2 separate regions of the Homo sapiens genome follow, and region 2 is linked to region 1. A link means that fine-mapping ties the variant in region 1 to the expression of a gene that starts in the linked region. Tissue or cell type: cerebellar hemisphere. Region 1 holds a variant in brackets; the other region holds the start of a gene. All regions are shown on one strand. Distances are from middle to middle. Region 1 holds the start of SLC23A3 (solute carrier family 23 member 3). Region 2 holds the start of ZFAND2B (zinc finger AN1-type containing 2B).

Evidence for each region. PIP is the estimated chance that this variant, and not a neighbour inherited with it, causes the effect. A credible set is the group of variants that fine-mapping cannot tell apart.
Region 2: it holds the start of ZFAND2B, and the variant in region 1 is the best candidate, but not a certain one, in a credible set for the expression of ZFAND2B in cerebellar hemisphere (GTEx, PIP 0.88).

What each region holds. Positions count from the first base shown.
Region 1 is chr2:219,167,355-219,172,724 of GRCh38, reverse strand. SLC23A3 (solute carrier family 23 member 3) reads left to right here and starts at 2,696. Exons shown (of 12, transcript NM_001144889.2): 1 at 2,696-2,902; 2 at 3,047-3,204; 3 at 3,319-3,416; 4 at 3,623-3,696; 5 at 3,892-4,073; 6 at 4,407-4,530; 7 at 4,681-4,795. The coding sequence starts at 2,741. CNPPD1 (cyclin Pas1/PHO80 domain containing 1) reads left to right here. Exons shown (of 8, transcript NM_015680.6): 8 at 1-828. The coding sequence ends at 139. RefSeq lists enhancers at 1,150-1,199, 1,250-1,409. The variant G/T (reference allele first, on the strand shown) is at 2,329.
Region 2 is chr2:219,204,077-219,209,446 of GRCh38, reverse strand. It overlaps ZFAND2B (zinc finger AN1-type containing 2B), which reads right to left and starts at 2,665. Exons shown (of 9, transcript NM_138802.3): 1 at 2,405-2,665; 2 at 2,026-2,120; 3 at 1,668-1,799; 4 at 1,409-1,560; 5 at 1,099-1,191; 6 at 961-1,021; 7 at 808-875; 8 at 398-470; 9 at 1-185. The coding sequence starts at 2,459. The coding sequence ends at 141. RefSeq lists enhancers at 1,207-1,706, 2,824-3,073 and a silencer at 2,374-2,773.

The sequences.
Region 1 (5,370 bases):
CCCCTGGTACCATACCTATGGCCTGGCTCCCCCCTGGCCTTGGAGCCCGGTGCTCCTTTCACTTCCTCAGCCTCAGCAATGTTCCCTTTTCAGTGTCATGGAGCTGGCTCGCCTCAAGTCTTTCGTTTTCCCAGGCTAGGTAGGGCTGTGAGGAATGCATTAAGAGGGTTTGGGAGTTTCTGAGAACCTGGAGGAGCAAAGCTTGATTCAGATCCTGTCTGCCTCGCTGGGTCCTTGGCAGGTCCCCTGTCCTCCTGGGTGGGAGCTTATGGGGTGGTGGGGCAGAAGGACTGAAGGTAATTCACTCCTAGATCGCAGTGGCTGGCTGCTTGGCCAGGACAGTGATGCCGCCAGGGAGAGCTTCCGCTTGGTGACCAGGGACATGTCCCAGATGGACATAGAAGCCCCTCTCTGCCTCCCTGGGATTTTTTAGACTTTTACTTTTGATTTCCCTAGGATGGAAGAGTATAGGTGGGAGATAAGGGAAGTGGGGTGAGAGGAGAAAGGAAATGTTGGCATGGGCCTGTGTGATGTCCCTGAGGCAGAAGAGCCGGGGACTGATGGGTTCAGGTGGGAGCTGCTGGGTGAGGCAGGGAACCCTTTTCACTCCCATTCCTTAGCTTTAGTCTAATGGAGCCAAGGACTGCTGGGACCTTCAACCCTGATCTTTTGTCTTCCAGTCTTCTCTTAGTGTCCTGCTCCTAGGTTTCCCTCTCTTCTGGTTCTTCTCCCAGGTATTCTCTTCCCAGGCCTCTCTGGCCACTGCTTTGTATCAGGGTTTTTCACGCTTTTGTAGAACTGAGGTTTCAATAAACAGTTTCAGTTGCATGGCCTGGACTTTTCCTTCTGCGGCAGCCCTTGAAGATTTTTCCTCCCTGTATCTGCCTTCCAAGCCTCCCTGCTTCCTGATCCTGTCATCTCACAAACTGTTTTCTCAGCCTCATCTCAGGACTTTCCTATCGTTTGATAGGCATAGGCTTCCATTTCCAACTTTGTTCCTGCTCCCAGGACCCTGGGCCCTAGCACTGCTCAACTTGGGATGCCATGGGACACACATGGTGACTGTCCTGTCCCTGAGTTGGCCTTGTCTGTCACTTGTTCTGGGTAAGCACTCTCCTTGTGGATCCCAAAGCACATCTCGTGGAGAGGGGCCAGGCCTTGTAACCAGCAGAGCCTTGTGAGCTCCTGAGGGCAAGCCACGAGGACGCTTCTCTCTCCTGACCTCCTCACTGGTCTGACACATGGTGATGGTCACATGGTGCTTAACAATTCCAAGAACTTGAAGAACTCCAAGGCTGGGTCATCACTGGAGGAAGGAAAACAGTCTGGGCAGCTTGGCTGAGGGTATTTGGGACTGCTGAGGATACTTCACGGAAGAAGTGGTTCTGCCCCCTAGGGGGCATTTTGGAAATTTATGGGCTATTTTTTCATTGTCAAAAGGATTCAAGGGGATGGGGTGCTACTGGCATTTCGTCAACCTGGGCGGGATGCTAGACATCATGAAATGCTCAGACCTCCCGTACTGTGAAGAATTCCCAAGACAACTTTTGAATGACCAGCTTTATGTATATGAAAACCCTGTTTATCTGAGCCTAGAACTGTCTTTGCACATGTAAACGTGAAATAGCGTTTGTGCGTTTTGAAAAGACTCAGTTTGCTAGGAATTCATTCCCATGTAAATTAAGACGACTTTATTTTGCTTGGCACCTTAACCAAGAGTTTGTTTGCCATTTTGAAAATCGGGTTACCAACATCAGAGTCACCGATAAAGCACCAATATCAGCTGGCATTGCAGCTATTGCAACCACAGCAATTCTCATAGGGTGTGGGATTGGACTACTTCATTGTACTTTATTGTCTTCTGGTTTAGTTGTGCTTAAGCCTTCACGTAATGAAATACATGTTATTATAAATTTTATTCTTTACAGTGAGCATGTTTCAGGTAGTTGTGGTTGTCACATGTGATGTAGGATATATTGTCCACAAGTTTCTTTTTTTCTTTTTTCTTTTTTTTTTTGACACAGTCTCACTCTGTCACCCAGGCTGGAGTGCAGTGGCACGGTCTCAGCTCACTACAACCTCCGCCTTCTGGGTTCGAGCAATTCTTGTGCCTCAGCCTCCCGAGTAGGTGGGATTACAGGGATGTGCCACCACATCCAGCTAAGTTTTGTATTTTTAGTAGAGATGGTTTCACCATGTTGCCAGGCTGGTCTTGAACTCCTCACCTCAAGTGATACACCCAGTTCGGCCTCCCAAAGTGGTGTGATTACAGGCATGAGCCACCATACTGAGCCCACAAGTTTCATTTTGAAGTAGTCCAGGGGCCTT[G/T]GTTCTGAAAGGGGTGAGGACTGTGGATCAAATAGTGATAGTTTTAAATGGGAGGGAATAAAGTCTGCAAAATTTCCCCATATTATTTTGAAGAGCTCCTCTCCTCCCCACCCCTCCTATCCTACTTTCTACAGCCTGGTCTAGGGGCAGGAAATCTGGAAGAAGATTCTCGGGGGAGGGCCCCAGAACTCAGCTCCCCAGTTAATGGCTGATGGAATTTGCACAACAGCTGGGCAAAGGTGAAAGGGTGGTGCCCTGCCCCAAATTCCTTATACCTTTGCTCCGCTTCATTGACACCCCCACCCTCTCCCCACCTTCTCCCCACCCCAGGCTTCACCCAAACTCTGACCTCTTACTCTCTCTACTTAACTCTGGTCCCGGGCAGCCAAGACAAAGCGAAAGGCAAGGCAGCATGAGCCGATCACCCCTCAATCCCAGCCAACTCCGATCAGTGGGCTCCCAGGATGCCCTGGCCCCCTTGCCTCCACCTGCTCCCCAGAATCCCTCCACCCACTCTTGGGACCCTTTGTGTGGATCTCTGCCTTGGGGCCTCAGCTGTCTTCTGGCTCTGCAGGTAGGAGGCAGAGGTGCAGGAGTTGGTGCTGCCTGATGGTGTGTGTGGGGAAGTAGGTGTAGATGTGGCATGTGAAAGCCTCTGGAAGTATTGTAGGTATTTCCACTTCTCTGAAGACTGCCCTCCCCATTCCTCCACCTGCAGCATGTCTTGGTCATGGCTTCTCTGCTCTGTGTCTCCCACCTGCTCCTGCTTTGCAGTCTCTCCCCAGGAGGACTCTCTTACTCCCCTTCTCAGCTCCTGGCCTCCAGCTTCTTTTCATGTGGTATGTCTACCATCCTGCAAACTTGGATGGGCAGCAGGTGAGAGGAACCTCCCTGGAGAGAGGGGCAGAGTCCTGGAGGGTAGGAGAGGTTTGGGGGAGCCTTGCTGGCTGCCACATAGTCCCAGACCTGCTGGGGCTGCTGTTCCTACAGGCTGCCTCTTGTCCAGGCTCCATCCTTAGAGTTCCTTATCCCTGCTCTGGTGCTGACCAGCCAGAAGCTACCCCGGGCCATCCAGACACCTGGAAACTGTGAGCACAGAGCAAGGGCAAGGGGTAAGGGTGGGGCTGGGTTCTCATCTGAGCATGCAGGTGTAGGTGGGTGCAGAATTGAGATTGGGCAGTGGTGAGACTGTGACACTATAGGGGGCTTGGACCTGTGCCAGGAGTGGGACTGTAGAGCAATGGGTCTCCATTCCATTCACCCTTCTCTTCTCCATGCCCCAAACTTTTCCTAGCCTCCCTCATGCTGCACCTTTGTAGGGGACCTAGCTGCCATGGCCTGGGGCACTGGAACACTTCTCTCCAGGAGGTGGGTATCTGGAGGTGAGAAGGGATAAGGGTGGTGCCAGGCTTGGGGGGGGCTCTTGTTTCCATTATGCACAGACTGAGATGCTCCTGGAAAGGAGTTTTGGGAGGAACCCATACTTAGAATTAGGAAGACCAGGCTGAGGCCAGTTTGATTGAGCAGAATGTTTTCTCTCCATCCTCTCCTCTCTTCTACCAGGTGTCCGGGGCAGTGGTAGTATCTGGGCTGCTGCAGGGCATGATGGGGCTGCTGGGGAGTCCCGGCCACGTGTTCCCCCACTGTGGGCCCCTGGTGCTGGCTCCCAGCCTGGTTGTGGCAGGGCTCTCTGCCCACAGGGAGGTAGCCCAGTTCTGCTTCACACACTGGGGGTTGGCCTTGCTGTACGTGAGTCCTGAGAGGCGTGGGATGGTGCCCAGTGGGGGTGTATGGGGGGACTAGGGGAGGGCAGAACTGCTGGTCCTATCAGATTCAGCAGCGACTGGAATAGGGACATATTTTATATTTGGAATCCAAGACTTTTCCTTGATTCATCTGGTCTCCTTGAATTTCACACTGTTTTCTGCTGTCCCCCAAGGTCACTTCCTATTCCTTCCATGGGAGTTTCCTTCTCTGGTATCACCCCCCGCTCTTATGATATTCTGCCCACTCCCACCTCCTTTCCCATCCCTCAGGATACCCACTGCCTCTTGCTCCTAAAGCCTTCTGTCTCCTAGGGTTATCCTGCTCATGGTGGTCTGTTCTCAGCACCTGGGCTCCTGCCAGTTTCATGTGTGCCCCTGGAGGCGAGCTTCAACGTCATCAACTCACACTCCTCTCCCTGTCTTCCGGCTCCTTTCGGTATGTGTGGGTCTGGGCAGGGCAGTAGAGGTCAGAAGGGCTGGCCTGGAGTGCTCACTCCATCCCCTACCTTTTGGCTTCTGTCTACCCCTGCAAGGCTGGCTCAGAAGGTTCTGGGGGAGGAGTTCTTTTCTCAGTCTCGCCCCTCAGGTGCTGATCCCAGTGGCCTGTGTGTGGATTGTTTCTGCCTTTGTGGGATTCAGTGTTATCCCCCAGGAACTGTCTGCCCCCACCAAGGCACCATGGATTTGGCTGCCTCACCCAGGTAGGTTTTCTCCTAGTCCTCCATTCTCTTGTTCAAATAAAGGTATCTATTTGAACTCAAAGAACTTAATGGATTTTATTTCTGAGTTAAATCCTGTGTTTTTTGAAAACATATAGGAGAGAGAAATTATCAGTCTGAGAGACAGACAATGCTAGCCCCTCACTGTAGGTGTTTTTTTGTTTGTTTGTTTGAGACAGGGTCTCACTCTGTCATACAGGGTGGAGTGCATGGCGTGATCATGGCTCACGCAACCTCAACCTCCCAGGCCCAGGTGATCCTCCCACCTAAGCCTCCGGAGTAGCTGGGACTACAGGTGTGCTTTTTTTTTTTTTTTTTTTTTTGTAGAGACAGGGTTTCACCATGTTGCCCAGGCTGGTCTCAAACTCCTGGGCTCAAGTGATCTGCTTGATTAAATGCTGGGATTACAGGCATGAGCCACTGTGCCCCATCCCACTGCAGGTGTTTTATTTGGGTCAGTGTTAGGAGACAGACATCTGTTGTTTCTGTAACCCCCGATACTCACTACCAATACTCCTTACCCAATGAACACATTTATGTTACCAGCCCCTATGGGC
Region 2 (5,370 bases), 37 kb before region 1:
GAGGCTCCCAGGGCGACCTCCACATCACTCCCGCTTGTCTCTGCCCTCCAGGGTGCTCCGGGCCTCCTCTCCCTGTGTACCCTAGAGGTGTGAGGGCCACAGTCCTCCTCAGGTGAACCTCCCTCCCCAAGCCCAGGGCCCTAGCACAGGCTGCAGTTGGACGGCTTCGAGCTGCGGCTCTGGGCCTAGAGCAAAGAGAGGGGAAGGAGGGGAAGACACAGTGCAACGTCAAGGAAATGAGGGACAGCCCTCATTTCAGAGCTCAGCATGGGCTGGAGTCATACTGAAAACCAGACGATAACCACCATTCCAAAACTCTGCACCACTAGGAAGAACCCCCATCCCTGACTTCTTCCTCCCTTCCACTGCAGCATATATCTTCAGCCCAGCCTCATACCTGCTGCCGCTGGTATTCTGCCTCACTGGCTGACAGTGCTTGTGCTAAAGCTAGGTCTTCTTCCTCCTGACAACTGGGAGGGAGAAACAGTTTAAGTTGGATGATGGTAAGATCTGAAATTTGAACATCTGATCTGTGTGTGTTGGGCCTCATGGTGCTGAGCACTGCTGAGGATTATCTCAATCTTCATAGCAACACTACAAGGTGGGTATTAGTATTGTCCCCGTTTTATAGAGGAAATGAAGGCTCCATGGGTTAAATAACTTGTCAAAGATCATATAGTTCATCTTAATTTTGAGACCAAGTTGCCAGCGATTATCTTGCATTGTGTCAGAGTGGTCCCACCTACCTGCCTCCAGACCAAGCCCTTGCCCACAGCTTGCGCTCTCTTTCACAAGAGGGTAAGGTACCTTGGAACCTGGGGTTTGGTTTCTGCCAGGGACATTTCCAGGGCCCGCTGCAGAGCTTCATCCTCACTCTACAAAGGGAGAAAGAAGACCAGCGTCCTTGGACTTCACTCTCTGTGTGTTTGTTTCTGTCCATCCAACCTCTGCCCAACTCACCAGGCCATTCTGCAAAGCAATCACTGGAGGGGCTGTCCAGGACGGAGATCGGGTTGTGGCTCTACGACAGACATTGAAGAGGTGGAGGTCAGAGGTGTGAAGGGGAAAAAGGGGGAGCAGGGAAACGGGCAGGCCTACCTGCTGGGAGAGGTACAGGAAGGCATGGTTTGACTTGGGCTGGGGACAGTGCTTGTAGAAGCCACAGCTTGTGCTCTGGAGATGGCAGCAAGTCTGTAGGGAAGAGAGATTTTTGGCATGTCTCCAAGAACTAGCCTTACCCAGGAAGTCAGGAGGGGAGTTCTGGAAAAACATGCACTTGAAAAGGAAGCTAAAAGACTCCCCTAGCCGACAGGGTAGGGTTGAAGCTCCCCAATTTATAACAACAGAGCTTGAGTCAGTTCCAAAAGAATGCTTCCCAAAAGCAAGTGGAGGACTTGGCTGCCATTACCCTGCCCGGCTGGTTGGGTGCCCCTCCCCAGAGCAATCATGGTCCAGTGGATGCCGGTGCTTGATGCAGAAGTTTCGGCTACAGCGTTCACAGGTCAGTTTCATCATTTCTCGCTGCCGGCAGCCAGCGCGTTCACACTTATTGGTGAAGATCTGAGGTGAAGTGAGAAGGTTGTCTCTGCTGAGACTCTGATTAGCTGTTTGGGTTTCCAGGCATCCGTAGTCCCAGCTGGGTTGTGGCTGACCCCTACAATGTTTACCTTACGTTTTTGCTGTGCTGGATCAGAGCGACAGTCTCTGTCAATGTGCTCTCCCACAGCACGGTCAGGGGGCTCCCCTCTGGCCACAGGCACAGGCACATTACAGAGAGGGCACACAGGTACCTGGATATCCTGTAGTCAAGGAGCAAGGGTCAGTCTGTGGCCCACTCCAGTCCAACAAATCTCTGGTCCTGAAAGAACTTGGATATGACCCACCACAAACACGCAAAAAAACAGTGTTTCCCAGCACTGACAGCCTCAGAAGGACAAAAGGGAGAAGAAACGTGAGACACAGATTTGGGGGATTCTGCACGCATTCTCCATCTGCCTGCTTTCACCCTGAGGATCGCCCCCTCACCTTTTGGTAAGCAGATCCACAGTGATGCTGGGCGTAGGCCACATGGTCTGCGCAGAAGATGCCTGAGCAGGCATCACACTTAAGCGGCAGAAAATCTGCAAAGAGTTGGTCGGATTGCAGGTCCAGCGGGACCTCGATGTCCTTCTCTCTCACTCAAGTCTTCCACTCGGGAAGGAAAACGCCACCCTATTTTCGACACACCGCCCCTTCCCAAGCCCATTACCTCCTTGGCCACGCCCCCTCTGCCGCTGACCACCCCCCCCCAGCTTCAAGCCCCGCCCCCCGGCATTGCCAGCCTGGGAGCCCACCCTTCCCTCCCAACCTGCGGTTCAAAGTCCCTGTCCGCTGGGCCCCGCCCCCCGCGCGCTCCGCCCCTCACCCAAGCGCTGACAGCTCGGCTCCGAACAGTGAGCGCCGAGGTCCGGAAACTCCATCGCCAAGCCGGGCAGGGTCTGCTAGGAGAAGCGACGAGTGCTGAGCGTCTTTAGGGCTCGTGCTCGAAGTCCGCACCGCGACCCCGCACTCTGGCGGGCTCCCTGCCCCGCCCCTTCCTCTCCCCCGCCCAGCCCGGGTTACCGGAGCCCCCGCGCCAGCCGGCCCCCGGCGCCCGCTCCTCCCTCGGCGCGCGCGGCGCGCTGACGTCATCCCGCAGGGCTGGCGCGTCCGGCGCAGTCTCCGGGCAGCCGGGGAGGGCCTCGGTTGAGCCCCGCCCCGCCTCGCCTTGCTCTAGAAGGCTGAGTCGGAAGACTGTCCCGAGGCGAGAGGGTGTTGATGCGCGGCTCCGCCACCCTGGGCGCGGGCGTAGCTCCGCAGAGGAAGGCCAGCGAAGGCAAAGACGGATATCTTGGGGGATGGAAGGCTGGGTGGTTTGGGGTCTTTCACAATTCGGTCCTTAGCCCGCTTCACACACGATGCCCTCCTCCTGGCCATTTTGTTCACGGCCACGGCTGCCCTTCGCCTCCACGAGCTGACAGCTCCTGTATTTCTCTGAAGTACAGACGTCTCTAGAGCTGCAGATCCCTCCTCAGTCTGAACTAGGCGCACCTGCTATGTGATCTTACTTCTTCCATTCTAGCACCCATATCACTAATGCGACCAACCCCTATATGAGCATACTGGGAAATCAGGAACCACGTCTACCTTGTTTCGTGTTAGGTCCCAGCACCTAACAGTGCCTAGAACAGTGTGGTCCTCAGTCTTTAGTGTGAATCCAAATCGCCTACGGAGCTAGTTTAAAATGCGGATTTCCGGGCCCTGGAGCTTCTAATTCAGTAGGAAGCACCTGAAGGAATTCTGACACAGATTGCCATGCACCACACTCTGAAAAACCCTAGCCTAGAATATTCTTAGTAATTATTGAATGTAGCCAGGACTACAGGCACAAGCCACCGTGCTCAGCTAATTTTTAATTTTGTAGAAATGGGGTTGGGGAGGGGTCTCTCTTTGTTGCCCAGATTGGTCTCGAACTCCTGGCCTTAAGTGATCCTCCTGCCTTGGCCTCCCAAAGTGCTGGGATTACAGACGTGAGCCACCACACCTGACCAATATAATTTTTTTTTTTTTGAGACACAGTGTCACTCTTGTCACCCAGGCTGGAGTGCAGTGGCATGATCTCGGCTCACTGCAACCTCTGCTTCCCGGGTTCAAGCGATTCTCCTGCCTCAGCCTCCCAAGTAGTTGGGACTACAGGTGCACACCACTGCGTCCAGCTAATTTTTGTATTTTTAGAGACGGCGTTTCACCATGTTGCCCAGGCTGGTCTCGAACTCCTGACCTCGTGATCTGCCCGCCTCGGCCTCCCAAAGTGCTGGGATTACAGGCATGAGCCACCACTCCCAGCCAATATTCTTTTTATTTTAAATTGCATCCAGGACTTTATAAATGCTTTTATTTTGTTTCAATATATAACTGTCAGATTTCAAATAATTTTTTCCCAGTCTCATTATAATCATTTGGTTCTAAGAATTTTGTTTATTCATTTTTTTTCCTCTCTATATTCATCAGTACAATTTAGAATTGTAGGCTTCCAGTCCCGGCATGGTGGCTGACGCTTGTAATTTCAGCACTTTGGGAGGCTGACGCAGGAGGATCGCTTGAGCCTAGGAGTTCCAGCCTGGGCAACATAGTGAGACCCTGTCTCTACAAAAATAGAAAGAATTGTAGGCTTTCAGTTTGGAGAAACGTGTATGGAGCAGACTAAACAAAGATAAACACTGCCTCTCTCCCCACTCCCACTTTACAAATGCTCAGATAACCAAAGCCTTGTGGAACTCAAAAAATAAAAATCTTCGGATCTCATTTTTGAGCATGAGCCAGAATGCTTGAAGTGCAAATGTAGTCATTTGTTCTTATGTTGCTATACAGAAATACCTCGCTAGGCATGGTGGCTCATGCCTGTAATCCCATCCCTCGGAGGCCAAGGTGGGAGGGTCACTCGAGTCCAGGAGTTTGAGACCAGCCTGGGCAACATAGTAAGACCTCCCTCTCTACAAAAAAAATTTTTAAAAAGTTAGCTGGGCATGGTGGCATCCACCCGTTGTCCCAAATACTCGAGAGGCTTTGGTGGGAGGATTGCTTGAGCCTAGGAGCTCGAAGTTGCAGTGAGCTATGATTGTACCACTGTGCTTCAGCTGGATAACAAAGTGAGACCCTGTCTTTAAAAAAAAAAAAAAATCTGAGGCTGGTTGATTTATAAAGAAAGAGGTTTAATTTATTCATGGTTCTGCAGACTGCATAGGAAGCATGGTGCCAGCATCTGCTCAGCTTCTGGTGAGGCCTCAGGAAGCTTCTAATCATTGCAGAAGGCCTAGGGGGAACAGGCATGTCACATGGCAAGAGTGGGAGCAAGAGAGAGAAGAGGGAGGTCCCAGAGTCTTTTCAAAACCAGATCTGATGTGAACTGAGTGAGAATTCACTCATCACCAAGAGGATGGCACTAAGCCATTCATGAGGGGTCCACTCTCAGGTTCCAATCACCTCCTGCCAGGTCCCACCTCTGACATTGGGAATACATTTCTTTTTCTTTTCTTTTTTTTTTTTTTTTTTTCTTTTTTGAGACAGAATCTCACTCTGTCGCCCAGGCTGGAGTGCAGTGGCACAGTCTCAGCTCACTGCAACCTCCGCCTCCCGGGTTCATACCATTCTCCTGCCTCAGCCTCCCAAGTAGCTAGGATTACAGGCGCATGCCACCACGCCCGGCTAATTTTTTGTATTTTTAGGAGAGATGGGGTTTCACCGTGTTAGCCAGGATGGTCTCGATCTCCTGACCTCGTGATCCGCCCGCCTCGGCCTCCCAAAGTGCTGGAATTACAGGCATGAGCCACTGCGCCCGGCGGGAATACATTT